Linked DNA regions of Homo sapiens. The protein of the gene in region 2 interacts with the protein of the main gene of each other region in a biochemical or structural test. Each region holds a gene or a part of one and is shown on either strand. Other genes may lie near its edges.

Region 1 (15,893 bases), on a different chromosome or scaffold from region 2:
TATCTTCTTCTAATCCTAAAAACTCTGCAAGATGTTTAGTTATTCCCATTTTGCTGTTCAGGAAGCTGAGGCTAAGAACGATTAATAAGCAATCTGCCCAACCAAGAGGCCAGTAAAGAAGCAGGTCCAAACCCGTCTGTCTCGGTCAAGGCTATCCTCTGTCCACCGTCCCACACGCCTCCCTATATGCGGAGAAGAAGCTGTCCCCTTTTCCCCACCTTAATTCAGCTACTGAGTGCTTACTATGCCATATCCATGTGTCAAACTCCCACAGATCAACCATTTTCTGATGAAATCCCAAGTAGCCTGGCAGTAAAATAAAGTAAAACCACAACTCATTTGTACTATGGTAATTTCATATGTCCACAACTGTTAAGGATAACATTAACGGTAGCTCACTAAGGCCAAAGGCATGTAGAAAACAAGCTAAGTTAGTGTACAAATAAAATAAACTATCCTATCTCTTTTCCACTAAAAAGACTGCAACAAAACTATAAGGATAACATTTAAACTGTACCATTTTTAAAAGTAAATCAGGCTGGGCGTGGTAGCTCATGTCTGTAATCCCAACACTTTGGGAGGCCGAGGTGGGTGGATCACCTGAGGTTGGGAGTTCGAGATGAGCCTAACCAACATGGAGAAACCCCGTCTCTACTAAAAATACAAAATTAGCTGGGCGTGGTGGTGCATGCCCGTAATCCCAGCTACTCGGGAGGCTGAGGCAGGAGAATTGCTTAAAAAACTCGGAGGCAGAGGTTGCAGTGAGCCAAGATCATGCCACTGCACTCCAGCCTGGGCAACAAGAGCAAAACTCCGTCTCAAAAAGAAAAAAAAAAAGTAAATCAGTTGCAGACTTTGATGCTTTAGTACTGAACTATTATTATTTCTACTAGCAGGCAGGAACAGTGGCTCATGCCTGTAATCCCAGCACTTTTGGGAGGCCAAGGCAGGAGGAGACTGCTTGAGCCCAGGAATTTGAGACCAGCCTGGGCAACATGGGGAGACCTCATCTCCAGAAAAATTAGCCAGGCATGGTAGCACATGCTTGTGGTCCCAGATGCTCGGGAGCCTGAGGTGGGAAGATTGCTTGAGCCTGGGAGGTTGAGGCTGCAGTGAGCCATGATCGGGCCCATTACACTCCAGCCCGGGTGACAGAGCAAGACCCTGTCTCAAGATGGAAAAAAGTTCTACTTGCAACACTCCACACAACTAGTGCAATTCTTGGTATGTCAAAATACCAAGAATGAGAACTGCTGATACAAAATACAGTGGAACACAAAGAAAATGTCCCTTTGTATCTGGGAAAGAAGGCAGGGGTCAGGAAAAGCTTTAAAGAGAAAGTGATGCTTCAGCTGTCTTTAAACAGTAACACAGTTGAGTCTTTTCTGGAAGTTCTGCTTCTTACAGAAGGAAAAGTATGTTTTCAGAAAACTGAAAAACGTTCAGTATGGCAGGCATGTATAGTGACCAAGCCAACAGATAATAAATCTGGGGAACAAAGAAGCACCAAATAGACCATGGGGGGCCTTGTAAACCAGATCTGTAACTAGAGAGATCTGGAAGTGTGGGAAATGGACTCAATGAAGGAACAACCATGTGCTTAGAGAGAACCAGGGAAAGCTCCATGAAAGATGGAGCCCAGCCAAGAGTGGACATGCTAAGTTTGGAGCATCTATGATGATTCTGGGTAAATGCATCTAACAGACAGTTAAGAAACAAGTCTAGGCCGGGTGGAGTGGCTCACGTCTATAATCCCAGCACTTTGGGAGGCTGAGGCGGGTGGATCACTTGAGGTCAGGAGTTCGAGAGCAGCCTGGCCAGCATGGTGAAACCCCAAATCTACTGAAAATACAAAAAAATTAGCTGGGCATGGTGGCACAGCTACTCGGGAGGCTGAGGTGGGAGGATGGCTTGAACCCAGGAGGCAGAGGTTGCAGTGAGCCAAGATCATCCCACTACACTACAGCCTAGGTGACAGAGCAAGACTCTGTTCTGCCCGTCCCCAAAAACGAAAATGAAATAAGTCTGGAGCCCACAAGAGCAATCTTGGCTACAGACACAAATATATTAGGACACAGGTAGATTTCAAAGCCATGAAGGGAGATGAGGAGATCACACAGAAGAATCAACAGAGTGAGAAAAGAGTCAAGTTTTGAAGCCCAATCAACACCAAATTTAAGATCAAGAAACTATCAAGAAATACTAGCGATTAAAGGATCACTGGCCGGGCGTGGTTACTCACGCCTCTAATCCCAGCACTTTGGGAGGCCAAGGCGGGCGGATCACGAGGTCAGAAGATCGAGACCATCCTGGCTAACATGGTGAAACCCCACCTCTACTAAAAATACAAAAAATTAGCTGGCGGTGGTGGCGGGCGAGTGTAGTCTCAGCTACTTGGGAGGCTGAGGCAGGAGAATCGCTTGAACCCGGGAGGCGGAGCTTGCAGTGAGCCAAGATTGCGCCACTGCACTCCAGCCTGGGCGACAGAGCAAAAAAAAAAAAAAAAAAAAAAAAACAGATTAAAGGATCAGGAGACAGGAGGATCAGAAACGCTGAAGTTTTAAGAAGTGGGTGGCCAACAGTGTCGGCTGATACAAGGAATACAAGGCTTAAAAAAGTAAGTCCACTGAGGCTGGGCTCAGTGGCTCACACTTGTAATCCCAGCACTTTGGGAGGCCAAGGCGGGCAGGTCACCTGAGGTCAGGAGTTCAAGACCAGCCTGGCCAACATGGTGAAACCCCGTTTCTACTAAAAATAAAAAAAATTAACCAGGCATGGTGGCGGGTGCCTGTAATCTCAGCTATTTGGGAGGCTGAGGCAGGAGAATTGCTTGAACCCAGGAGGCAAAGGTTGCAGTGAGCCCAGATCACACCACTGCACTCCAGCCTGCGTGGTAAGAAGGAGACTTTGTCTTAAAAAAAAAGTCCACTGAAATCAGCATGTAAAAAAAAAACATGGGTAACCTGTCAGGGTAATTACTACAGTGATAAGAACAGTGGACTTAAATGTGAGTGAGAAATGATACAGCGCAGTCAGCTGGAACAAAAACAACAGATGACAATTATTGCCCTTACTTTGAGTCAGAGACTGTTCTAAGTGCTTCTTGCATATTAGCTCATTGAATCCTTGTTAAGTATTTCCATGTTTAAAGCCAGGCACTTTAAACATGGCATGCACCTATAGTCCCAGCTTTTTAGAAGGCTGAAGAGAAAGGATCATTTGAGGCCAGGAGTTCAAGGCTGTAGTGCACTATGATCACACCTGTGAATAGCCAGAGCAACACAGCAAGACCACATCTCTTAAAAACAAAACACTCCATATTTTTTAAATCTCTATTGTTTTCTTGGTTTCACACAGTGGAAAATAGAGGCAGAGAGGTTAAAACAATTTGCTCAAGATCACACACTGGATAATAAAATTGGAATTTCATTCCAGGCAATCTAACTACCACTGCCATAGTAATAAACCATTCTCTTCAAAACTGGGCAGTAAAGGAAGAATGGTGAAACAAAATGCATTCAGCTTTTACTACATGATAGGTGTATCTCGAACCTGGAAATGCTGAATCAGTGGTTTGTTTTTTTTTTTTTTTTGCTTTGTTTTAGCTTTAAAGAGACAAGAGAGTTGCATGCAGCATGGAGGAAAGAGGTAGTAATCTAATAGAAAGGAAGCATTAGAGCAGGGTTTCCCAGCCTCAACACTGTTGTCATTTGGGGCTGGATCACTCTTGGTTCTGGGAGGCTGTCCTGTGCACTGTGAGATGTTTAGCAGCATCTCTGTCATTCACCCACTAGATGCCAGTAGCACCCTTTCCTCCCAGTTGTGACAAAAATATCTGCAGCCATCACCAAATGTCTTCTAGGGGGTAAAACTGTCCCTGGTTGAGAACCACCAGATTAAAATAAGGGAGGACCATGGAGAGAGCAAGTTCTGGAGGACAGAATGGGACCCAAAGAGCAAACTATGTCTGTATACAGTGGCAATAATTTTGCTAATGATCAAACACAAAATTAATTACCTTTATGTCTGGATCTAACAGCTGGTTCTTCAACAACTCAAAGTCATTTGTTTCACCCTTAACAAGAAGGGGAAAGAATTAAGTTATGCTTTTGTTTCCTGTTTAGTATCAACAGCAAGACTTTTAACCGTACTTTAACATCAGATGAAATTATAAAAGGAACACTAACTTTCACATGTCAATTGCGGATTATAAAATCATGACTACAAAAATTTAAACACTCATGTTAGTGCAGCCAGAGGGCTTGGAAAAAGGAAAATGATAAACTACATTTAGCTATACTTCTGTATTGACATTTGAATATAATAGTTGATACTCCTGCGAATTCTCAAAAAGCATGAGGGAAAAAAACAGCCAGCTATAATGATCTAATTCAGGAGGATCTAAAAAAGTATTCACTCAAATATGGATACAAATGGATATTACATATAAACATATGGTTACTTAACATTTTCCCTCTACTGCTGAGATACAGTAGAAATGCTTCTAAACTACCACAAAAACAAAAATCCCTACTCAGAGAACTGGTTTACTGTCCCAAAGTAATGCTTAGGTAAGTTCCTCAAAAAATAAAATGCTGTAGGCCAGGCATGGTGGCTCACGTCTGTAATCCCAGCACTTTGGGAGGCCAAGGCGGGTGGATCACAAGGTCAGGAGTTCGAGACCAGCCTGGCCAACATGGTGAAACCCTGCCTCTACTAAAAAAATAAAAAAATTAGCCAGGTGTGGTGGTGTGTGCCTGTAACCCCACCTATTCGGAAGACTGAGGCAGGAGAATTGCTTGAACCTGGGAGGTGGAGGATGCAGTGAGCCGAGGTCACGCCACTGCACTCCAGCCTGGGTGACAGAGGAAGACTCCAGCACAAATAAATAAATAAATAAAATGGTGTAATTGTTTTTAATTCTGGCACTTGCTAAAGTTAAAAGATGCTTCGTAAATAAAGCATTTGAAGAGGTGAAACCTCAGTAAAGACATTATTACTCTCTCATTATTACCTGTGAAATGGGCCAAGGTGGGGGAAAAAAAGGACACTATTACTCTAATTTTGCACTGACGGCATCATGCTATTATTAAATATTTGATTTCAACTGGTATCTTAATTAATCTTGCTATTTCTATTGGTCTTTAGTATAACAGCAATAGTTGTATTCTGACCTAACCAAAAGCAAACCTCACACATTATCTCCCCTTACCTTTTTGTACTTCAGCAAGACTTCTGTCACAGTTCCACCAAACCGAACAGTTTTTCTTGGGGGAGAATTGAAAAAGTCATTCTCTAATGCACGCATATTTGAAATCCTGTGGAACCAAGATTAACAAGCTATTAAGTTCATGAAAATAATAAAAATTATAATAGCCAACATTTATTGAACCAACATAATTCAGTGGAACTATTGTTAAGGCCTCTTTACTGGTCTCCCTGCTTCCACTCTTAACCAACAATCCTTCCTTTGCTCAGCAACCAATAACTGTCTTCCCACTGCACTTACAGTAAAAATCCAAATCTCTCAGTGTGGTCTTTAAGATCCTACATTAATCTGGCCCCTGCCTACCTCTCTCACCTCATCTCCAACAACTTGTTTTACTACAGCCATAACGTCTTTTCTGCTCTTCAAACAAGCCAAGCTGTTTTTCATTTCACTTACTGTTCACTCTATTGGAAATACTCTTTTCCCAAATCTCTACGTGGCTGGATTTTTTTTTTTGAGATGGAGTCTTGCTCTGCTGCCCAGGCTGGAGTGCAGTGGTGTGATCTTGGCTTAACTGCAACCTCCATCTCCCGGGTTCAAGCAATTATCCTGCCTCAGCCTCCTGAGTAGCTGGGATTACAGGCACCTGCCACCATGCCCGGCTGATTTTTGTATTTTCAGTAGAGACGAGGTTTCGCACGTTGGCCAGGCTGGTCTCCAACTCCTGACTTCAGATGATCCGCCCGCCTCGGCCTCCCAAAGTGCTGGGATTACAGGCGTGAGCAACCGCGCCCGGCCTAGATTTTTGTCTTCATTCAAGTGGAAGCTCAAATGACAGATGTCTTCCCAATGAGAAATCTCAAAAGCTCCTTCTCTCCCTTCTCCCTCCCCCATTACCTTGTTGTATAACTGAAATCATCGTGTTCGTTTATTTATTGGCCTATGTACTGCCTTTCCCCCCTATGCTGTAAGCTCTGTAGAAAGCAGGGACATTAGTGTCTTTGGATAAACCACTGTCCCCAGTGTTTAACACAGTAAGCAGGAGCTCGATAATTATTATGAATCATATTACGCTAATTGTTTTACAAGGTTTGCTTCACTTACACGTAGTAAATTAATGAAAAAACATAGCATCCTAATGACTCTGAAAGTTAAACGCCAAGAGTGCTACGGGGGTTAGGGATTTTAAAAGTGGAGCAAAATAAAGACTGCGAAACAAATACGTGTGTCGAAACAAATTCCAAACAAAAAAGATGTAATATTCAATTTGCCATGAGTGACGACGTTCGGCTGATAACCCACATAGCCCAGGGAAATCCCTTCCAAATTTGGACGAAGAAGAGGGAAGGAAGAGGGGTCAAGGCGCAGAAGGCAGTACCCAGGCCTGGGAAATCACGAAGAGACACAGTCGGGAAAGGGGGCCTCCAGAACAGAGAACATAGTCACTTTTCCAGGCCCCACCCATGTCTATTACCCAGTTAGGAGGAATGAGCTCATTTCTGTGAACGTGAGATGACCCTCCACCCCGTGCTCCTATCACACGCCATGAGCTTTGTCCCACATCCTTTCAATCCGCTCCTCTAAGCGCCGTCCTGAGCTTTCGTCCCAGATACGCAGAAGGAAGCGGCCTGAATCTTACCCAGTCCTCGACGCGCCCAGCTTCTTAACTGCAGAGGACGAAGCGGCCGCATCTCCCGGCAAACGCGTGTGAAGCAGCGGTGCCGCCATTGGGCCGAACTAACGCGACCGCTGCGCCTCAGGCCGGATGCCCAGCTCCTTCCAGCCACAGCCTCTGTCCCGGAAGTTGCGCGTGCCAGCGCAACCTTCAGCCAATCAGCGGCCCCGCGTGGGGAGGGCGTATGCTCTCGGCGGGCTAGAGCGCCGCTGAAACCCGCTCCTCGTTCTACTTGGAGGACTTGTTCCAGCCAGCGCTAGTGCGTGAGTATAAGGAGAGACGGGAAGGACCGGCTCCATCCAGCCCTGAGGATCCCGAAGAAAGGGTGGAAACACCCTGGATGTGCTAAGCTGTGGCCGGGTACACTCAAGTGTTAATTTTTTGGAGTCAAAGCCTCCCTCAGTCAAATCGAAGAAACTGAAGCACTTGTGACTGACCCAGATCTTCACGGAGGAAAGGGGATTCGAACCCGGCTGACCCAGGAGCCTGGGCTCTATACTCAGTGCAGCAGTCTCACAGACACCCAAGATAACGTTATCCTCACGGAAACGAGCTCGACGAAGTGACCTACCTCAGAGCCTCAAGGCTATGGTGATGCTGGCATGAGAAACAACAGGAGAGTTACGAAGAGGTGTTACCCCCTTGACTTTATTTATTTATTTATTTATTTTCTTTTGAGGCCGAGTCTTGCCCTTTTGCCCAGGTGGAGTGCAGTGGTGTGATCTCAGCTCACTGCAACCTCCGCCTCCCCAGTTCCAGCAATTCTCGTGCCTCAGCCTCCCAAGTAGCTGGGATTACAGGCGCATGCCACCACACCCGGCTAATTTTCGTATTTTTAGTGGAGACGGGGTTGCACTGTGTTGGCCAGGCTGGTCTCGAACTCATGACCTCAGGTCATCCGCCCGCCTCGGCCTCCCAAAGTGCTGGGATTACAAGCATGAGCCACCACGCCCGGCCAAACTTAAATTTTTAAAAGAGGAACAGGAGTCAGCCAGACCAACAAAAGAGCCACTGGCGTTCCAAGCATAGGAAACGGAGGAAACAGAGGCCAAAACCTCGGGACTGTGGAGGATGTAGAGGGAGAGCAGGGGCTGCCCCTACTCTCAGGGAGGGGAAAAGGTTGCAACTTTGGAAACTGTACAGGCCTATCAAAAATACAAAAATATCCAGCCTGGGTGACACGGTGAAACTCCATCTCTACAAAAAATTTAAAAAATAAAAATAATAAAAATTATCTGGGTGTGGTGGCACACACCTGTAGTCCCAGCTACTCGGGAGGCTGAGGATTGCTTGAGCCTGGGAGATAGCACCACTGCACTCCTGCTTGGGCAACAGAGTGAGACCCTGTCTCGAAATAAATAAATAAGTTTTTAAAAATGCATATGTATGGGCCCGGCGCAGTGGCTCACGCCTGTTATCCCAACACTTTGGGAGGCCGAGGCAAGTGGATCACCTGAGGCCAGAAGTTTGAGACCAGCCTGGCCAACATGACAAAACCCTGTCTCTACTAAAAATACAAAATTAGCCAGGCATGGTGGCAGTGCCTGTAATCCCAGCTACTTGGGAGGCCGAGGCAGGAGAATAGTTTGAACCCAGGAGGCAGAGGTTGCAGTGAGCCAAGATCGTGCCATTGCACTCCAGCCTGGGTGACGAGTGAAACTGTGTCTCAAAAAAAAAAAAGGTGTGTGTGTGTGTGTGTGTGTGTGTGTGTGTTTATATGTATCTCTCTCCAGGAGTTCAAGACCAGCCTGGGCAACATATGGTGGTGCATACCTGTAGTCCCAGCTACTTGAAAACTGAGGACGGAGGATCACTTGAGCCCTGGAGGTCAAGGCTGCAGTGAGCTGTGATTGTACCCCTGCACTCCAGCCTGGACAACACAGCAAGACCCTATTTCACAACATAAAATACAGCAATTTGGTTTTTTTGTTTTTTGTTTTTTTTTTGAGACAGAGTCTCGCTCTGTCACCCAGGCTGGAGTACAGTGTCATGATCTTGGCTCACTGCATCCTCTGCTTCCCAGGTTCAAGCGATTCTTGTGCCTCAGCCTCCCCAGTAGCTAGGATTACAGGCATGCGCCACCATGCCCAGCTAATTTTTGTATTTTTAGTAGAGACAGGGTTTCACCATGTTGGCCAGGCTGGTCTCAAACTCTTGACCTCAAGTGATCCGCCCGCCTTGGCATCCCAAAGTGCTGGGATTACAGGCATGAGCCACCACGCCCCGCCAGCAGTTTGTTAAACATAAACCATAGCTCTGTTTTGCAACAGTGTAAAATCAGTAACTGTCTTTCCTGAGTCTCTATTTGGTCCTTACTGAGTTCCTTGGGAATGTTGGACAGGAATCATCTGTGTCTCAAGGACAGAGGAAATAATTGCACCGTAGCTCACAAAGATACTTCAAGATAACTGTTTAAATGAGAATCTCTTCTTCACTTCCAAGGGAAAGCAAAGCAAAAACAAAAAGCAACAATAGCAAAACAGCAATCTGACAATTATCTGTTTTGTTTTGTTTTGGTTTGAGACAGGATCTCATTGTCTAGCCCAAGTTAGAGCGCAATGGCGCGATCATGGCTCGTTGCAGCCTCGGGCTCCTACAGCTTATGCAATCCTCTCACCTCAGCCGCCCGAACCCACACCACCAAGCCCAGCTAATTTTTTGTATTTTTGGTAAATACGAGGTCTCACTTTGTTGCCCAGGCTGGTCTTGAACCCCCGGCCCAAGTGATCCTCCCACCTTGGCCTCCCAAAGTGTGTCTCCCCACCTACACTCCCATTCTTTCCCTTAAAAAAAGTCTGAGTCTGGGTGCAGTGACTCACACCTGTAATGCCAGAGCTTTGGGAGGCTGAGGCAGGAGGATAACTTGAAGCCAGGAGTTTGAGACCAGCCCAGGCAACACAGCCAGACTCCGTCTCTACAAATAACACTTTTAAAAAACTTACCCAGGCATGGTGGCACGTGCCTGTAGTTCCAATTATTTGGGAGACAGAGGTGGGAGAATCACTTGAACCCAGGAGTTGGAAGCTGCAGTGAGCTATGACTACACCACGACACTCTCTGGCCTGGGTGACAAAGCAAAATCTCATCTCTTAAAAAAAAAAAGGGAAAAAAAGCTTGATATGTACAAAATAATATGTTAATGTAAGTTATAAGAACATAATGGGCCAGACACAGCGGCTCCTGCCTGTAATCCCAGCACTTTGGGAGGCCGAGGCAGGCGGATCACGAGGTCAGGAGATCGAGACCATCCTGGCTAATGCGGTGAAACCCCGTCTCTACTAAAAATACAAAAAAAAAAAAAAAAAAAAAAAATGTGCCGGGCGTGGTGGCAGGCACTTGTAATCCCAGCTACTTGGGAAGCTGAGGCAGGAGAATGGCATGAACCCGAGAGGTGGAGCTTGCAGTGAGCCGAGATCGCGCCACTGCACCCCAGCCTGGGTGACAGAGTGAGACTCCGTCTCCAAAAAAAAAAAAAAGAACATAATGAACACCTGTGAACATATCGCCCAATTTAAGAAGCCGAACATTAACTAGGACAATTGACACTTACTCTGTGCTGCTCTCGGATCCCACCTTCTACCTGCTTTCCTCCCAAAAATAGTCACCATCATGATTTTTAAAAGTCATTTTAGTTTTCTTTGAATAATTATCATATTTATACTCCTAAACAATGCACTATATTTACTTTTATTTGTCTTTGCATTTTATAAAGTTATCTCCATGCTGTATTATACTGCTGTTTGTTTTCAACATTATGCTTTTTTTTTTTTTTTTTTTTTGAGACGGAGTCTCCCTCTGTTGCCCAGGCTGGAGTGCAGTGGCATGATCTCCCGCCGTCCTCCCACCTCGGCCTCCCAAAATGCTGAGATTATAGGCATGAGCCACCGCGACCAGCCTGAATATTCTTGTATCATGTCCTGATGTATGTGTACAAGTGTTTTTCTAGGGTGGAACTGTTGGGTTGGAGGGGGCACCAAAAGCTTTTAGGAAAGGAGAAAGGAACAAATTGGATATCTATGATTTTTTTTTTTTTTTTTTGAGACAGAGTCTCACTCTGTTGCCCAGGCTGGGGTACAGTGGCACAAGCTCAGCTCACTGCAACCTCTGCCTCCCGGGTTCAAGCGATTCTCCTGCCTCAGCCTCCTGAGTAGCTGGGACTACATGTGCCCGCCACCACACCTGGCTAATTTTTGTATTTTTAGTAGAGATGGGGTTTCTCCATGTTGCCCAGGCTGGTCTCAAATGCCTGACCTCAGGTGATCTGCCTACCTTGACCTCCTAAAATGCTGGGATTACAGGTGTGAGCCATCGTGTCTGGCTACTATTAGTTTTTCTATTTAGAAATTGTTCATCTGGATCCTCCCTACCTTTCAGCCATTTGCAATACATTTGTTGAGCATAAAGAGTGACCTTCTTGGCCGGGCATGGTGGCTCACGCCTGTAATCCCAGCACTTTTGGAGGCCAAGGTGGGTGGATCACCTGAGGTCGGGAGTTCGAGACCAGCCTGACCAACATGGAAAAACCCTGTCTCTACTAAAAATACAAAATTAGCCTGGCATGGTGGCACATGCCTGTAATCCCAGCTACTTGGGAGGCTGAGGCAGGAGAATCACTTGAACCTGGGAGGCAGAGGTTGCAGTGAGCCGAGATCACTGCCATTGCACTCCAGCCTAGGCATCAAAACTCCCTCTCAAAAAAAAAGAGCAACTTTCTTGTCCACAGCAAAGAATCACTGGAAGCCATTTGATGCAATATGACCTCATCTCTCTAGCCAGTGTCGATTGGGTTACAGGAGGGCACCAAGAAGCTTTTTGAAGGCTGTGCCAATGTACACTTCCAGCAATATCTTCTTAAGCTTGAGTGCAGCTCCTTATTTTCCCAAAGCACAGCTAAGACTAAGGCTGCCAAGTTTTTAAAAAGATTTAAAGGAAACTCTGAGCATTATACAAGAAAAATACTGGCCGGGCCCTGTGGCTCATGCCTGTAATCCCTGTACTTTGGGAGGCTGAGGCAGGTGGCTCACTTGAGATCAGGAGTTCAAGACCAGCTGGGCCAACATGGTGAAACCCCATCTCTACTAAAAATACGAATTAGCAGGTGTGGTGGCAGGTGCCTGTAATCCCAGCTACTTGAGAGGCTGAGGCTGGAGAATTGCTTGAACCCAGGAGGCAGAGGTTGCAGTGAGCCAAGATCGCAACACTGCACTCCAGCCTGGGCAACAGAGCAAGACTTGGTCTCAAAAAAAAAAAAAAAAAAAAAAAAAGGAGAAAAAGAAAACCTTAAAACTAAATGCATAATTTCTGTTGTAATTCTTTGACCATGTCCGTTCTTTGTGGAGCCTCTATTCAGTCAAATTGTCCTGTGGGCCAACTCATCTTGGCAGGATAAAAGCCTCCTTATCCAGTCTTGCCTTCCCCAGAGAAAATAAAGGGGGTGGGGGAGGGATAAAGAAAATTAAGACCCTCCCCCTCCAAAAAGAGAAACAACAAAAAGCATGCAAGGATTAACATGCTATCTGCAAAGTCACCACCCTGCCCACAGTGTGGCCTTTCACTTCACTGAGTAATATATTGTTTGTAATACAACAATGTAATCAGCTTCTTCATTCCAGAACAAAATTTTGCTTTACTATCATCATATACCCAGAAGACCCATTAAACTGTTATTTCAAAACAGCAGCCTTTCCTTAGAGATAAATTTTACAGCTACCCCTAGAGTAGTTCTGTTGGCCAAAGCCTCTTAGCTTGCTAGTGAAAGAAACAAAGTCAAGCCAGCTTAAGCAGAAAAGGAGAATTTGTTCTGAGGATACAAATATATAGTAAGGTACCAAAAAAGAATTTATCATTGGCCAATTTGGATAAGGTGCCCTCCTGTAACCCTCCTGTAATCTAATCAACACTGTTAGAGAGATGAGGTGACAGTATACCAAATGGCTTTTGATGAATCTTTGCTGTGAACTAGAAGGGATTAAGTTATGCTCAACTAATGGTTTGCAAATGGCTGAATGGTAGGGCGGATCCACACGAAAAATTTCTAAATAACAAAACCAATAGCATGTATCTCATTTGTCCTTTTTCCTTTCCAAAGAGTCAACAATTATTGTATGAGTCAATTATCTTTATAAAAACTACATTCATTAACACAAATGCAAGATCTCAACTATATATCTTTAGTTATATACATGTATACACATATATGTGTATGTATACATACATTATCCTCAAAGACAACTAATTTAGAGCGTTCCTCATCCCAGTATCTCAGAGAAATACAAAGCAGTTTCTTAGATTTGGCATCATTGAGATTTTGGGCCAACCAGATACTTCTCTGTTGGGTGGGGAGGAGGCTGTTCTGTGAACTGTGGGATGTTCAGCAGCATCCCTGGCCTCTACCCAGTAGATGACAGTAGCACTCCTCTCCTCCCCACAGTAACATTCAAAAATATCTCCAGATGTTGCCAAATGTCCCTGGGGTACAAAACTCTTCCAATTAAGAACCACTGGTATAAACAAGTCAGCTGGGAGTGGTGGCACACACCTGTGGTCCCAGCTATATGGGAGGGTGAGGCAGGAGAATTGCTTGAGCCAGGAGCTTGAGACCAGCCTAGCCAGAATCTCTGCCTAGCCTAGGCAGATCTCTACAGAAAAATACAAAAATCAGCCATAGTGTTGGTGTGCACCTGTAGTCCCGGCTACTCAGGAGGCTGAGACGTGAGGATCAATTGAGCCCAGGAGGTCGAGACTGCAGTGAGCTATGATCTCCCCACTGCATCCTGCAACAGGGACGCTATCTCAAATAGTTAATTAATTAATGGAAGAAAGAAAGAAATCCTAGCTTTGTAATTTACTCTATTACTTTGGGCAATTGCCTTATGTTTCCAGAACTTCAATTTTCTTATGTACAAAATGGGAATAACTTTTTGAGCTATTTTAGAGCTATCGTAAGGATTAGAGCACATAACCACAAACCACAAAATATGTCACGGTGTACAGGACAGGGCAGGTTCTCCGTAAATGACAGTATTTGCCCATTTATTTTCCTGTAAATATGAAATATACTAGGATACTTGATGTGGTTACACTCAGGTGGAAACTGACCTATGAGGGAGATAGACAGATAGGCACGGTCTTTTTTGTTTGTTTGTTTGTTTTTTGAGACGGAGTCTCGCTCTTTCACCCAGGACGGACTGCAGTGGCACGATCTCGGCTCACTGCAAACTCTGCCTCCAAGATGCAAATGATTGTCGTGCCTCAGCCTCCCAAGTAGCTGGAATTACAGGTGTGCACTACCATGCCCAGCTGTTTTTTGTAGAGATGGGGTTAGTAGAGATTTGTTTAATAGAGACGGGGTTTCACCATGGTCTCTACTAAACCCTGTCTCTACTAAAAATACAAAAATTACCCAGGCGTGGTGGCACATGCCTGTAGTCCCAGGTACTCAAGAGGCTGAGGCAGGGGAATCACTTGAACCTGGGAGGTGGAGGTTGCAGTGACCCAAAATCATGCACTCTAGCCTGGGGTCTCGCTTTTGCCCAGGTTAGAGTGCAGTGGCACAATCATAGTGGCTCACTGCAGCCTCAAACTCCTGGGCTGAAGGGAATCCTCCCACCTCAGCCTCCCAAGTAGCTAGGACTATAGGCATGTGCCATCATGGCGAGTTAATTTTTTGTGTGTTTTTATTGTCTCGAGACAGAGTCTTGCTCTGTTGCTCAGGCTGGACTGCAATGGCGTGATCTTGGCTCACCGCAACCTCCACCTCCTGGGTTCAAGCGATTCTCCTGCCTCAGCCTCCCGAGTAGCTGGGATTACAGGTGCGTGCCACCATGCCTGGCTAATTTTGTATTTTTGGTAGAGACAGGGTTTCGCCATGTTGGTCAGGCTGCTCTTGAACGCCTGACCTTGTGATCCACCTGCCTCGGCCTCTCAAAGTGTTGGGATTACAGGCATGAGCCACTGAGCCTGGCCTGGTGAGCTAATTTTTAAATTTGTTATAGAGACAAGAGTCTCTCTTATGTTGCCCAGGCTGGTCTCGACCCCCTGGCCTCAAGTGATCCTCCCACCTCAGCCTCCCAAAGTGCTGGGATTACAGATGGGTGTCACCGCACCTGGCCTCTGAGGAGGATTTCATTATAAACCTGCCCTGAAGGGAGGAAATCCAATTTTACGAGAGGGTGTAGCCTGGTGAGGCCTGGATGACCTCCGGAGGCAGGGGCTTGTGCCTGGGCTGAGGCCTAAGGGTCAATGGGCAGACATGAAGTTGCCCCAGGCAGAGGGTACAGTGTGGGCAAAGTCAGGAAGTGGCAGGGCTTGGATCACTCCAGGAAGAGAGAGGAGTCATGTGTCACAGGAGCTCGAGACCCAGAGAGGGAGGCAGGCAGGCAGGCAGGGACCAAGCTTGGGCACAGCCAGGAAGGCAGGACAGGGCATGGTGGGGCCAAAGGAATCATTACCCAAGACGGGGATTTTCAGGGAAACAGCTTAGATAAGGCCAGGTGTACAGTAGCTCCCACCTGTAATCCCAGCATTTGGTGAGGCTGAGGTAGGAGGACTGCTTGAGCCTGGGAGTTCGAGACCAGCCTAGGCAACATAGTGAGACCCCATATCCACAAAAAATTTAAAAAAGGAGTTTGTGTTCCTGTAGTAGCAGACTTGGGAGGTTGAGGTGGCAGTATCACTTGAGCCCGGAAGTTCAAGGCTAAAGTGAGCTGATTGAGCCATTGCACTCCAGCCTGAGCAACAGAGAGATACGCTGTCTCAAAGGAAATACAAATTAAAAAACCAGCCGGGCATGCTGGCGTGTGCCTGTAGTCTCAGCTACTTGGGACGCTGAAGTGGGAGGATCGCTTGAGCCCAGGAGTTCAAGGCTGCCGTGAGCTATGATTGTGCCTCTGCAGTCCAGCCTGGGCGACAGAGAAAGACCCTGTCTCTTAAAAAAAAAAAAAAAAAAATCTTAGATAAGAGGATGCTGTGCCTCCCTGGGGGTCTTCAGTCACCCATGGTCCTGGCAAG
Region 2 (15,158 bases):
TATTTATATATTTATTTATTTTTAGAGGCAGGGTCTCACTTTGTTACCCAGGCTGCACTGCAGTGGTAAGATCTTAGGTCACTGCAGCCTCAAACGCCTGGGCTCAAGCCATCCTCCTGCCTCAGCGTCCTAAGGCAGGGGCTATAAGGGACTCTCTCCCATAGCTGGGACTACAAGTACACGCTACGAAGCCTGGCTCAGTTTTCTTTGATTTATAAAAGCATGATTTAAAACACTGGAAAACTTCCACTACTGACGTGTTATTACTTTTGGCAAATCTGTTTGTATCGGGCTAGCTAACTTATGGCAAAAACCAAGTCTTCCAGAAGCCATAAAAATGAAATGAGAGTATTTATTTTAAAGCAAAATGAACTTTCAAAAACAAACTACCCAAACTGACCTAGAAATTCCACAACTAGATATATATCTGAAAATTAAAAACATATGTTCACACAATAACTTCTAGATGAATATTCACAGCAGCACTATTCATAAGCCAAAAAGTGAAAAAAGGAACAAAAAACCCCCAAAAACCAAAAACCCCAAATGTGCAACAACAAATGGATAAACAAAATGCAGTACATTAATACATGGGATATTATTCAGCTATAAAAGGAATGTACTGACACATGCTATAATATGGATGAAACTTGAAGACATGCTCAGTGAAAGGACCCAAACACAAAAGTCCATATATTACATGATTCCATTTATCTGAAATGTCAAATGCAGAGAGACCAAAGCAGATTAGGGGTTTGCTAGGGGATGGCAGAAAGGGGGAACTGGGGAACTGCGAGTGACTGCTAGTGGGTAGGGAGTTTCTTTTTGGGGGGACAGAAATGTTTTGGAATTAGACAGTGGAGATGGTTGCAAAACACTGTGAACATACTAATAACCACTGAATTCTTCATTCATTCATTCATTCATTCTATTTATTTATGGAGACAGGGTCTCACTCTGTCACTCAGGCTGGAGTGCAGTGGCATGATCTTGGCTCACTGCAACCTCCACCTCCTAGGCTAAAGCGATTCTTGTGCCTCAGCCTCCCAAGTAGCTGGTATTACAGGCATGCGCCCCCACACTCAGCTAATTTGTGTATTTTTAGTACAGATGGGGTTTCACCATGTTGGCCAGGCTGGTCTTGAACTCCTGGTCTCAAGTGATCTGCCAGCCTTGGCCTCCCAAAGTGCTGGGATTATAGGTGTAAAGCATCACACCTGGCCAAATTGCACATTTTAAAATGGTGAAGTTTATATCCTGCAATTTTTTTTTTTGAGATGGAGTCTCGCTCTGTCGCCCAGGCTGGAGTGCAGTGGCGCGAGCTCTGCTTACTGCAAGCTCCGCCTCCCGGGTTCACACCATTCTCCTGCCTCAGCCTCCCGAGTAGCTGGGACCACAGGCGCCCACCACCATGCCCGGTTAATTTTTTGTATTTTTAGTAGAGACAGGGTTTCACCGTGTTAGCCAGGATGGTCTTGATCTCCTGACCTCGTGATCTGCCTGCCTCAGCCTCCCAAAGTGCTGGGATCATGCAAGTTTTTTTTTTTTTTTTTTTTTTGAGACGGAGTTTCACTCTTGTTGCCCAGGCTGGAGTGCAATGGCACGATCTTGGCTCACTGCAACCTCCACCTCCCGGGTTCAAGCAATTCTCCTGCCTCAGCCTCCGGAGTAGCTGAGATTACAGGCATGCGCTGCCACGTCTGGCTAATTTTGTATTTTTAGTAGAGATGGGGTTTCTTCATGTTGGTCAGGCTGGTCTTGATCTCCTGACCTCAAGTGATCCGCCCACCTTCGCCTCTCAAAGTGTTGGGATTACAGGCGTGAGCCACCATGCCCAGCCTTTTTTTATTTTTTTGAAGTGGAGTCTCGCTCTGTTGCCCAGGCTGGAGTGCAGTGGTGCAATCTTGGCTTACTGCAACCTCCGCCTCCTAGGTTCAAGCAAGTCTCCTGCCTCAGCCTCCCAAGTAGCTGGGACTACAGGCACCCGCCACCACGCCCAGCTAATTTTTGTATTTTTAGTAGAGATGGGGTTCACCATATTGGCCAGGACGGTCTTGATCTCCTGACCTCGTGTTCCGCCTAGCTCGGCCTCCCAAAGTGCTGGGATTACTTGCGTGAACCAACGCGCCCGGCTTATCATGCAAATTATGTATAAAAATTATGTTTTTTTCTTTTTTTGAGACAGTCTCTCACTCTGTTGCCCAGGCTGGAGTGCAGTGGCACAATCTCGGCTCACTGCAGCTTCTGCTTCCCAGGTTCAGGTGATTCTCGTGCCTCAGCCTCCCGAGTAGCTGGGATTACAGGAACGCACCACCATGCCCGGCTAATTTTTTAAATATTTTTAGTAGAGACGGGGTTTCACCATGTTGCACAGGCAGGTCTTGAACTCCTGACCTCTGATGATCTACCCACCTTGGCCTCCCAAAGTGATAGGATTACAGGTATGAGCCACTGCACTCAGCCTAAAATTATGTATTTTTAAGAACTGCTCAAAAAGTGCTATTTCCAACAATACATTTAGACCAAAATGCTTTTTCTCTTTTTTTCAAGATGCAGTCTCATCTCTGTCACAAAGGCTGGAATGCGGTGGCTTGATCTCAGCTCACTGCAACCTCTGTCTCTTGGGCTCAAGTGAGTCTCCTGTCTCAGCCTCCCAAGTTACTGGGATTACAGGCATGTGCCACCATGCCTGGCTAATTTTTATATTTTTAGTAGAGACAGGGTTTCACCATACTGGCCAGGATGGTCTTGATCTCCTGACCTCAGGTGATCCACCCGCCTTGGCCTCCCAAAGTGCTGGGATTACAGGCGTGAGCCATCATGCCCAGCATGCTTTTTCTCTTTTTAAAAAGTAGAGACAGGGTCTTGGTTTGTTGCCCAGGTTGGTCTTGAACTCCTGGGCTCAAGCAATTCTCCTGCCTCGTCCTTCCAGAGTATTGGGATTATAGCTATAAGCCACTGTACCTGGCCCAAAATGCTTTCAAAAACAATTAAAAATGCAGGATATTAGAAAAAAACTTACAGCATCAAAGAGCTGACAAGATAGTAACAGAACATTTTGGGAAAAAAGAAACCATTCTAAGAAAAGCACAGAAGACCCCCTCTGCCCTATGGACATTTGCTGATCTTAGAAAACCTGGGCTGACGGCCGTGTGTGGTGGCTCATGTCTGTAACCCCAGCACTTTGGGAGGCCGAGGCGGGCAGATCACCTGAGGGCGGGAGTTCGAGACCAGCCTGACCAAGACGGAGAAACCCTGTCTCTACTAAAAATACAAAATTAGCTGGGCATGGTGGCGCATCCCTGTACATCCCAGCTACTCGGGAGGCTGAGGCAGGAAAATCGCCTGAACCCGGGAGGCAGAGGTTCCGGTGAGCCAAGATTGTGCCATTGCACTCCAGCCTGTGCAACAAGAGCAAGACTCAGTCTAAAAAAAAAGAAAACAATTCTTTTAAAAACCTCATCAGCTCATCAGCGCCTGTAGTCCCAGCTAATCAGGAGGCTGAGACAGAAGGATTGCTTGAACCCAGGAGGCGGAGGTGGCAGTGAGCCAAGATCACATCACTGCACTACAGCCTGAGTGATACAATGAGACTCTGTCTCTAAATAAATAAATAAAAATGAAAATCTCATCAGACATTAAAATGTCCAGCTTGAACTTAAAAGTGCCAGTGAAAACTAACACTGTTCTTCAACCCACCTCCCCTCCTGAGAGGAAGCTACTGCTATGTTGCTTGTGTATCCTTCTGGAAAGAACTTGAGGCATACATAGGCATATATAAATGTATTACTAGCCACTCTGTAAAAACCTTACTTGTATTTTTTGTAATATACAAACCATCCAAACGTTAATCAATGGGAGAATGGATAAACTGCAGTACAATAACAACAGCAGATGCTGGACTATCACAGAACAATAAACATGAAGGAATCACTGCTACACACAATGGACGGTGACTCACTCAATTATAACGTTGAGCAAAAGAAGCCAGACTTAAAGAGTACATACTGTGTAATTCCATTATATAAAGTTCACAAACAGGCAGCACTAATCCAAGATGTTAGACATCAGGACAGGACAGGCGCAGTGGCTCACACCAGTAATCCCAGCATTTTGGGAGGCCAAGGTAGGAGGATCACTTGAAACTAGCCTGGGCAACAAAGTGAGACCCTGTTTCTATAAAGTAAAAACTTAAAATCGGCTGGGAACAGTGGCACATATCAGAGTTCGAGACCAGGCTGGGCAACATGGCCAAACCCCATCTCTACTAAAAATACCAAAAATTAGCCAGTCGTGGTGACGTGCGCCTGTAATCTCAGCTACTTGGGAGGATGAGGTAGGACAATCACCTGAACCCAGGAAGTTGAGGCTGCAGTGAGCTGAGATCACACCACTGCACTCCAGCCTGGGCAACCAGAGTGAGACCTTGTCTCAAAAAAGAGAGCCGGATGCAGTGGCTCACGCCTGTAATCTCAGCACTTTGGTAGGCCGAGGTGGGTGGATCACGAGGTCAGGAGATTGAGACCATCCTGGCTAACACAGTGAAACCCCGTCTCTACTAAAAAATACAAAAAATTAGCCAGGTGTGGTGGCGGGTGTCTGTAGTCCCAGCTACTCGGGAGGCTGAGGCAGGAGAATGGCGTGAACCTGGGAGGTGAAGCTTACAGTGAGCTGAGATCGCGCCACTGCACTCCAGCCTAGGCGACAGAGCGAGACATCTCAAAATAAAATAAAATAAAATAAAAATAAAATAATACCGGGCGCGATGGCTCACGCCTGTAATCCTAGCACTCTGGGAGGCCGAGGCGGGCGGATCACAAGGTCAGGAGTTGGAGACCAGTCTGGTCAACATAGTGAAACCCTGTCTCTACTAAAAATACACAAAATATTAGCTGGGTGTGGTGGTGTGAGCCTGTAATCCCAGCTACTCAGGAGGCTGAGGCAAGAGAATCGCATGAACCCGGGAGGCAGAGGTTGCAGTGAGCCAAGATCGTGCCACTGCACTCCAGCCTGGACGACAGAATGACACTCCATCTCAAAAAAAAAAAAAAAGCTTTGTGCAGTGGCAGTATGGCCAATGAGGGTTATGTGAGGTGTGATTATTGCTAACTAAAAATAAAAAAATAAAGAAGGCAGCAGGACAATGGCTTCCCACTTGTAAAGTACTCCAACAGTATACAAAGCACCATCCCCCTTTCTCCAATCTCATCTTCACAGCCTCCTTTCTCAGGCTACTCGGGCATACTACAACTGTCCCTTAAACTTATTGGCCTCACTCCTCTTCGGGGCCTTTGCTCTAACTGTTCCTCTGCCTGGAAGGCTCTTCCTCCAGATATCTGGTGAGCTATTTTTTTTTTTTTTGAGACGGAGTGTCGCTCTGTTGCCAGGCTACAGTGCAGTGCAGCGATCTCAGCTCACTGCAACCTCCGCCTCCTGGGTTCAAGTGATTCTCCTGCCTCAGCCTCCCGGGTAGCTGGGACTACAGGTATGCGCCACCATGCCCAGCTAATTTATTTTTAGTAGAGATGGGGTTTCACCATGTTGGCTAGGATGGTCTTGATCTCTTGACCCCATGATCTGTCCATCTCGGCCTCCCAAAGTGCTGGGATTACAGGCATGAGCCACCGTGTCCAGCCTTTGGTGAGCTATTAAGAACTCTCCACCAGATGGATCGCTTCAGGTCAGGAGTTTGAGACTAGCCTGGCCAACATGGCAAAACCCTGTCTCTACTAAAAATACAAAAATTAGCCAGGTGTGGTGGCGGCCTCTTATAATTCCAGCTACTCAGGATGCTGAGGCAGGAGAATTGCTTGAACCTGGGAGGCGGAGGTTGCAGGGAGCCGAGATTGCACCACTGCACTCTAGCCTGGGCGACAGACCAAGACTGTCAAAAAAAAAAAAAAAAAAACCAAAACACTACTCCCTCACCTCCTTCAAGTCTTAGCTTAGCTTAAACTTCACTTTCTCAACAAAGCCTGTCTGAACACCGTATTTAACATTGCAACCTGTGCTTCCCACCACCTCTGCCTTCCTTTACTCTGCAGTGCTTGGCAACTTCTTACTACATAGTTTGTTTAATTATAACATCTATTGTTTAATTATAACATCTATTGTTGGTAATCCCAGCACTTTGGGAGGCCAAGGCTGGCTGATCACCTGAGGTTGGGAGTTTGACACCAGACTGACCAACATGGAGAAACCCCATTTCTACGAAAAATACAAAATTAGCTGGGCATGGTAACACATGCCGGTAATCCCAGCTACTCAGGAGGCTGAGGCAGGAGAATGGCTTGAACCTGGGAGGCGGAGGTTGCGGTGAGCCGAGATCGTGCCATCACATTCTAGCCTGGGCAACGAGAGCGAAATTCCATCTCAAAAAAAAAACCAAAACAAAACCATCTATTGTTTATCTCTTGTGTTTTTTTTTTTTTTTTTTTAATAGAGAAAAGGTCTCACTACGTTGCCCAGGCTGGTCTTGAACTCCTGGGCTAGAGTGATCCTCCCACCCCAGCCTCCCCTAAAGTACTAGTATTACTGGCATGAGCCACCACACCTGGCACCTTGTGGCAGCACCACAAGGCCAGGAATCTTTTTGTTCCCCGATATACTTCATGTGCCCACAATAGTGAATGAAAGATACTGAACACTTAATACAAGACCCCAAGCCCAGGGGACAGGCATACCTTATCAATGTAGAAGTCAACCTCTGAGGCTGACTGAAATTCACCATCCAGGGCTGAGATACCGCTGGTCCACACGAGGTTCTTCATCTTGTGTTTGAAGACAAGAAGCTGGATCCGGAACTCCTGCTCTGTGAGGTCCAGGAAGCCAGCCAGCTTGGCCACAGGCATGGTGGTGTAGAGCTTCAGGAAGCTGCGGATGGTTGAAAGCTGGGCCTGCTGCTGTACTTCATCAGAAAACACCTTCAGCTGCTGCAGGAAGGGCTCTTTGTGGTAGTTGGGGTGCACATTATCATAGTTGGGCACTACAGGCGACAGGAACTTGGGGCAGGAGTAACTGAAAAGTTCTTCATAGACTTGTGGGTCACCTTTCTGCATGCGCAACATCTTGTCCCCATATTTCTCCCGCAGCTGGAGGTGAATGCTCTCATCAATACGCATGGGGTACATCGTGAGGGCAATGGCCAGCAGCGCATGCATCTGCTCATTCTGCTTGTTAATCTGGGGATGGGGTGGAGAGTGGTACTGGGTCAAATGAGACGGACTTCCTGAGGTCCCCACTGCCAACTGGCCTCACCATTCTCTGCACAGATCTTTGACTTACCCAGTTGTTTCATACCAGCCATTGAACTTCCCCAACATCTCTTCCAATCCTCCCTCTAGATCTACCTAACTTCCATCCTAGCTCCAGATCCTCCTTAGCCATCTTCTGGATTCCTTACTGGCACCTCTGTCTTAGTCTCTCCAGTTTGTCCCACACATCACTAGCAGGTCAATCCTTTTACACAGTTAGGATCGAGTTACCCAAAACCTTTGATGCAACCTTGATGACGACAGAAATATAGACTAAATAGTAATGTGCCGTGCAACAGCGTTTCAGTCAACAACGGGCCATGGGCCACATATAGGATGGTGATCCTGCAAGATTATAATCCTGTATTTTTACTGTATCTTAGATACACAAATACCTTTGTGTTACAACTGCCTATGGTATTCAGTACAGTAATATGTTCTAGACGTTTGTAGCCAAGGAGCCATAGGCTATACCATGTAGCCCGGGTATGTAGTAGGTTATCCCATCTAGGTTTGTGTAAGTACATTCTATGATGTTCACACAACAAAATCACCAAATGATGCATTTCTCAGAATGTATCTGCAGCATCAAATGACACAGGACTATACTTTACCTGGGTTAATGAAGGTTCTCAGAATCTAATAACCCAATTCCTACTACCTACTTGCCCTCCAGCCAGAACAGTTTATTGTGCGGCTGCATCACCACACTTTCAAGTCTCAACCACTTTGCTCATGATATTCTCTGCCTAGGAAGCTCCTCCCAATTCTTGAACCCATCCTCCTTCCCACCAATATCCACACCTTATATCAAAACATTTAGAACCCAGTGAACACTCAGCATACTGATGCTGAATAAATAAATGTAGGCACTGCTGGAGGATATAACTGAAACAAAAGATATTATCATCAAGTCCTTATCATCAAGATGTTAATGATCTGAGGTAACAGGCATCACAACAGAAACTCCTAAGAGTATGCTAGCCATTAAAAGTTCATTTTGGCTGGGCGTGGTGGCTCACGCCTGTAATCCCAGCACTTTGGGAGGCTGAGGTGGATGGATCGCCTGAGGTCAGGAGTTCGAGACCAGCCTGGCCAAATAGTGAAACCCCATCTCTACTAAAAATACAAAAATTAGCTGGACATGGTGGCACGCGTCTGTAGTCCCAGCTACTCAGGAGGCTAAGGCTGGAGAATCACTTGAACCCAGGAAGCGGAGGTTGCAGTGAGCTGAGATTGCACCACTGTACTCCAGCCTGGGTGACAGAGACTTCGTCTCAAAAAAAAAAAAAAAAAAAAAAAAAAATTAGCCGGTGTTGTTGTGTGCGCCTTTAAGCCCAGCTATTCGGAAGACTAAGGTAGGATGATCGCCTGATCCCAGGAGGTTGAGGCTGACGTGAGCTGTGACTGCGTCACTGCACTCCAGCTGGGTGATCTATTAGTAGGCACAATCACAGAGCGCTCTACAGTCTTGAACTCCTGGCTTAAAAGTGCAATATTTTGGATGGTGTTTACCAAGAATGGTTGGCATAGGTGCCAAGGATCCCCCTGATTAGAAAGGCCACTGGTGGCAGGCAGAGTCCCCCTTACCATCTCATACTTGTACGTGGTCCTCTGGAACATGCTCTTGGTCCTCTGGATGTAGAGGAGGATGTTGGCGAAGACCCGGATGGCATCCTGGTAACGACGCATCATCAAATATGCAAACCCAACATAATAGTATGTGGTGACCTGGCACTCTGGCACACGGGAATACATACTCTGTAGAAGGAGGTAGAACAAACATTCATGAGTCCCAATTCATCCTAGATAGAACCAGAGGTAGAAACACCAAGAGTTTTCCCTGCAGAGGCCCTCAACTATCCAGAGGAAGCTCTGGAGTCCCAGAGTTTGAGAGCGGATCTTCCTATTCATCAATTAAGTTGTATGTTTTGAGGAATCCATTTTTTTAGCTGTAAACAAGAAGGTTCTGGATCAGGTAATCCCTAAAATCTCCTTCAGCTCTAAAATGCTATACATCTCAGTTTTGTTATTTTTCCTTGCTTTTTCAATTAAGTCCTTTTGGACAGGGAAGACAGAAACACATACATGCACATGAGCCAAACACCAAATAAAAATTATCTGTAATATTTTTCTGTGGTTAGGAAGAACACAACAGCTAACCATGTATCAATGAACATACCATCTTAGAATTACATCTTTACTTAATTCTTTTTTTTTTTCTGGGACAGAGTCTTGTTCTGTTGCCCAGGCTGGAGTGCAATGGTGTGATCTCGGCTCACTGCAACCTCTGCCTCCCAGGTTCAAGTGATTCTCCTACCTCAGCCTCCTGAGTAGCTGGGATTACAAGTGCCCACCACCATACCCAGCTAGTTTTTTTTTTTTTTGTATTTTCAACAGAGACAGGGTTTCACCATGTTGGCCAGGCTGGTCTCGAACTCCTGACCTCAAGTAATCCACCTGCCTCAGCCTCCCAAACTGCTGGGATTACAGGTGTGAGCCACTGCGTCTGGCCTTCTCAATCCTTTAGCAAAATGTGAAGAGCAAAGAGCTGCCATGGGCCAGGCATGGTGGCTCACGCCTGTAATCCCAGCATTTTGGGAGGCCGAGGTAGGCGGATCACGAGGTCAGGAGATCGAGACCATCTTGGCCAACACGGTGAAACCCCAACTCTACTAAAATACAAAAAAAAAAAAAAAAAAAAAATTAGCTGGGCATGGTGGCGCATGCCTGTAGTCCCAGCTACTCAGGAGGCTGAGGCAGGGGAATCGCTTGAACCCAGGAGACGGAGGTTGCAATGAGCTGAGATCACACCACTGCACTCCAGCCTGGTGACAGAGCAAGCTGCCATCATCATTCCATTTTGAAAACAAAATAAAAAACTGTTGTTAACTACCAAAATCGTCCAGGTCTAGCTTTTTACCACAGCTGTTTGCCCAGTTTTAGTCTCAACTTTCAATGGCCTGAGGGAACAGTCCTCTTTCCTCTCCTGGAAATTTGTCCTAAGAGATCAGAGTGGTTCTCTAGAAATAGATATTCTGGCTCTGGCAAGAGGGGCCAGAGGCAATAGGCATCACCTTCTTGTTCAGTTCGATGTTCTCCAGCACCTTGATGGCCTGGTAGTAATCTCCTAACAGGGAGTGCAGGCGGAGAAGCCCGACCAGGCTGAAGTAACCAAGCATTTTGTAGAGGGAGTGCCGCCCATACTCCCCAGCCACACTCTCAGGGTCACCTGAAAGAGACAGACACCGTGAATACTGATAGGAGGCAGGTAAAGGCAGGCACACCTGACCTCTGAATGTTACTCAGTAGGCATCTCACCTACTGCCAGCCTTGAAAGCTTCCCTCAACAACTGGGGAATAACTTCAAAGGAATACCAAGAAACAGCAAAACCAATCTTATGCTAATCTTCGATTTACCAATATTTGCTTACAGGATGGCAGTTCATTTTGCTTATTTTTTTTTTGGTCCCAACACATGCAAAGGCCCCTCTCATCAGTAAAATACAACCACGAAGACTCCTCCTTTCAGAAAGCACATGAGGTCAAAGCTATTTTCCTAATAACAACACTAAGATGTTACTTGCCCTTCCCACTGAGTTGAATTTTGCATGATGCAAACACTATGTTGGGTAAAATTACTGTCAACTTAAGCATAAATCAGGCAACGACACAAAATTGTACCAGTAGTCACTGCATTGCTTCTTGCCATGCATTTGCACTAAAAGAACTAGTCCTTAGCCAGGCTTGGTGGCTTAGACCTCTAATCCCAGCAACTTGAGAGGCCGAGATGGGAGGATGTGCTTGAGCCCAGGTACCATATCTGAATAACCAGAGATTGTTGTATCAGTTGTTTTTTGTTTGTTTGTTTGTTTTTTGAGACTGAGATCTATGGAAGTGCTACTGCATTTTGGCCTGGGTAACAGAGAGACCCTGTTCTAAAAAAAAGACAAAAAAAAGAAAGAAAATTCTTTTTTCATTTTTACTTGAAAAAAACAACTGATACATAGGTCGGGAGCGGTGGCTCACGCCTGTAATCCCAGCACTTTGGGAGGCTGAGGTGGGCAGATCACGAGGTCAGGAGATCGAGACCATCCTGGCTAGGTGAAACCCCGTCTCTACTAAAAATACAAAAAATTAGCCGGGCATGGTGGTGGGCGCCTGTAGCCCAGCTACTTGGGAGGCTGAGGCAGGAGAATGGCATGAACCCGGGAGGCGGAGCTTGCAGTGAGCCCAGATTGCGCCACTGCACTCCAGCCTGGGCAACAGAGCGAGACTCCACCTCAAAAAAAAAAAAACAAAAAAAACTGATACGCAACTGAGCGCAGCTCATGCCTGTAATCCTAGCATTTTGGGAGGCCGAGGCGGACGTATCACTTGAGGTCAGGAGTTTGAGCCCAGCCTGCCCAACATGGTGAAGCCCCGTCTCTACTAAAAATACAAAAATTAGATGGGTGTGGTGGTGCACACCTGCAGTCCCAGCTATTGGGGAGGCTGAGGCAGGAGAATTGCTTGAACTTGGGAGGCGGAGGTTGCAGTGAGCAGAGATTGTGCCACTGCACTCAAGCCTGGGCTACAGAGCAAGACTCTGTCTCAAAAAAAATAAAAATAAAAAAAGAAGGAAAAAAGGGCAGACATTTTCACAAAAATGAAGTAAACCTGTCATACCTCAAAGAAAATAACTGACAGTGTTTGCTACCTATAAAACAGTTCAAAGGTTGGGCACAGTGGCTCACACATGAAATCCCATGAGTTCAAGATTGGCCTGGGCAACAAAGTGAGACCTTGTTTCTACCAAAAAAAAAAGAAAAAAAAATCAGCCAGGTATGGTGGTGCAAACCTGCGTTCCTAGCTACTTGGGAGGCTGAGGTAGGAGGATCACTTGAGCCCAGCAGGTAGAGGATGCAGTGAGCCATGATTGTGCCACCGCACTTCAGCCAGGGTGACAGAGTGAGACCCCATCTCAAAATAAATAAAAATTCAAGCTATTAAGCAAAAATGGAATTTTGTAAAACTTGTATCTGCCACTACAAGCTCTATAGCTTACAAATAAATGCTTACCTGATGTCAGTGGCAAAAGTAACAAATCTGACTTTTTAAAAAAATGTAATAAAATGTGTCAACATTTGGAAGATCTTTATAACTCAGAGAACCAATATTTTTTTAGAAATCACACATGGCCAGGCGCAGTGGCTCATGCATGTAACCCCAGCACTTTGGGAGGCCGAGGCAGGCAGATCACTTGAGCTCGGGAGTTCAAGAGCAGCCTGGCCAACATGGTCAAACTCTGTTCTACTAAAAATACAAAAATCAGCCCGGCGTGGTGGCGTGTGCCTGTAATCCTTCCTTTCTATATCCCTGGAGGCTGAGACAGGAGAATCGCTTGAACCCCGGAGGCAGAGGATGCAGTGAACTGAGATCATGACATTGCACTCTGCCTGAGCAACAGAGCAGATTCTGTCTCAGGAAAAAAAAAAAAGTCACACATGGATGTAAGGAACTCATTCAAATTACAGAAGTGACGAATAACGTTAACAAAAGAAAAATTCACCAATACAGTTTCAGATTCCTCACTGCACCTAATCTGTATGAAACTACCACTGGTTACTTCAAAGAAGTACAGGGTGAGTATACTTCTATAAATGCTTGTGATCAGAAGTGTTTTGGATTTTGCAATTTTTAATATCTGCATATGCCTAATGAGATATCTTTTTTTTTTTTTTTTTTTTCCCCGAGACAGAGTCTCGCTCTGTCACTAAGACTGTAGTGCAGTGGTGCGATCTCGGCTCACTGCAACCTCTGCCTCCCTGGTTCAAATGATTCTCCTGCCTCAGCCTCCCAAGTAGATGGGATTACAGGTGCCCACCACCAGGCCCGGCTAATTTTTTGTATTTTTAGTAGAGATGAGGTTTCACCATGTTGGCCAGGATGGTCTTGAACTCCTGACCTCAGGTGATCTGCCCGCCTCAGCCTCCCAAAATGCCAGGATAATAGGCGTGAGCCATGGCACCCGGCCCTAATGAGTATCTTAAGGATAGGATCCAAATCTAAACATAAAATTCATTTATTTTTCATATATGTCTTATACACACAGCCTGAAAGTAACTTTATTATAATCTTTTAAATACTTTTGTGCATGAGACGAAGTTCTGACTGCAACTGCTCATATGAGGTTGGGTGTAGAATTTTCTACTTACGGCGTCATGTTGGTGCTCAAAAAGTCAGATTTTGGAGCATTTCAGATTTCAAATTTTCAAGTCAGGAATATTCAACCCATACATACTACTACATGGTGTAGTATCAAAGAAAATCCTCTCCAATAATCCTGGCACTTTTGGGAGGCCAAGGCAGGACTGCTTGAGCCCAGGAGTCCAAGACCAGACTGGGTGACACAGCGACACCCTGTCTCAAAAACAAACAACAAAAAAACTTCCTATAACCGTGTGAAGCCAGATTTTCCTTCTTTTTTTTTTTCAGACAAGTTCTCGCTCTGTGGCCCAGGCTAGAGTACAGTGGTGTGATCTCAGTTCACTGCAATCTTTGCTTCCTGGGCTCAAGCAATCCTCCCACCTCAGCCTCCCGAGTAGCTGGGACTACAGGGGCACCCCACCCACCATGCTCAGTCAATTTAAACATTTTTTTTGAGACAAAGTCTCACTATATTGCCCAGGCTGGTCTCAAACTCCTGGACTCAAGCGATCCTTCTGCCTAAGCCTCCCAAAGTGCTGGGATTACAGGTGTGAGCCACAGTGCCTGGGCCAGATTTTCTTTATGTGCTTCAAACAAAAGAACACATTGCAACAGATTGAATGCAGAAGCAGAAATGAGAAGCCAGCTATCTCAGCCAGACAGAGAGATCTGCAAAAATGCCACTCTTCACTGAAAAAAAAAGAAAAAAATTTTTTAAAATAGATACATTTTGTGGTTCTCAATATTTTAACAGGGTAAAGTGGCTCTGACACCAACACGTGTGAGAAGTGCTTATCTAAACAAAAGCACTGGAGACACAGAAGTGTTTACAAACGCAAATCTCAATGTGCTGGTTCAGTCTGTTGGCCAATGGACTCCCAAGCCCCAGAGCCCCCAGCACAAATACTCTGCTACTGTTTGTACTCAAGCACCTACAAAGAGTCAACAGACCACCACCTAAGACATGGTGACTCATCTGCTCTCCTTGCAGTGATCTATTCATTTGGAACAGATGGCAAGCAGCTGGAAATTCGCAGGCCACGGCTGTCGGCCTGCTGCACTCACCTCCGCTTGTGTATACCTCCAACTGTCGGTTGATGTTGGATTTGTCTACCAGGGAATGAAGGACATTGAGGACACTATGAACATTCCAGATTTTGGGATTGGAACGAAGAAAGTCAATCTCCTCCTCTGACTTCTTGGCAGTCTTACAGCGGTACTGACTGAATGACTGAAACTGTTGAGGAAGAAAAGAAACATGCAGTAGTGGTATAAGCCCAAAGTGATCATCCATGTCCACAATGCTGAAAACGAGGCAATGCTCTGGCTCTGGATGGGGCAAGGTGAGGGTGAGATGACCACTTCTCATTCTAAACCATTCCGTACACTGTTTTTCAAAGCCATCTTGACTAAACTGTGAATTCTGTTCATTACTGAATGTTACTTACTACACAGTGAAGTAAAAATCTCTAGGATTAGAGGTAGTCTGTGGTAAAAACATCCAATCTGGAGTCAAACACAACCCAAAGTCACTTCCTGTCTCTGGGCCTCACAATGCAGTTGACCGGGCCACCAGAAACACCACAGGGGCTCTTGTACCATCTATTCAGATGCAGCTAGACTGTGGTACGCCCTGGGTTATGGGCAGTGATGTGGTAATAGGTATCTGCACGTGTGAGCCTTCCCTACCACAGCTGACCATCAGTTCCCAGACTA

What was found.
Region 1: the proteins of EIF3L (region 2) and RRN3 form a complex in vitro, tested with the Homo sapiens proteins (one study listed by BioGRID).

Annotation. Positions count from the first base shown.
Region 1 is NC_000016.10:15,087,297-15,103,189, forward strand, and holds the start of RRN3 (RNA polymerase I-specific transcription initiation factor RRN3), read right to left. Parts: upstream 6,977-15,893; 5' UTR 6,938-6,976; coding exon 6,849-6,937; intron 5,319-6,848; coding exon 5,213-5,318; intron 4,076-5,212; coding exon 4,019-4,075; intron 1-4,018. UniProt on the Homo sapiens protein: Required for efficient transcription initiation by RNA polymerase I (Pol I). Required for the formation of the competent pre-initiation complex (PIC).
Region 2 is NC_000022.11:37,869,697-37,884,854, reverse strand, and holds part of EIF3L (eukaryotic translation initiation factor 3 subunit L), read right to left. Parts: intron 14,680-15,158; coding exon 14,508-14,679; intron 10,486-14,507; coding exon 10,331-10,485; intron 9,015-10,330; coding exon 8,844-9,014; intron 7,182-8,843; coding exon 6,684-7,181; intron 1-6,683. UniProt on the Homo sapiens protein: Component of the eukaryotic translation initiation factor 3 (eIF-3) complex, which is required for several steps in the initiation of protein synthesis.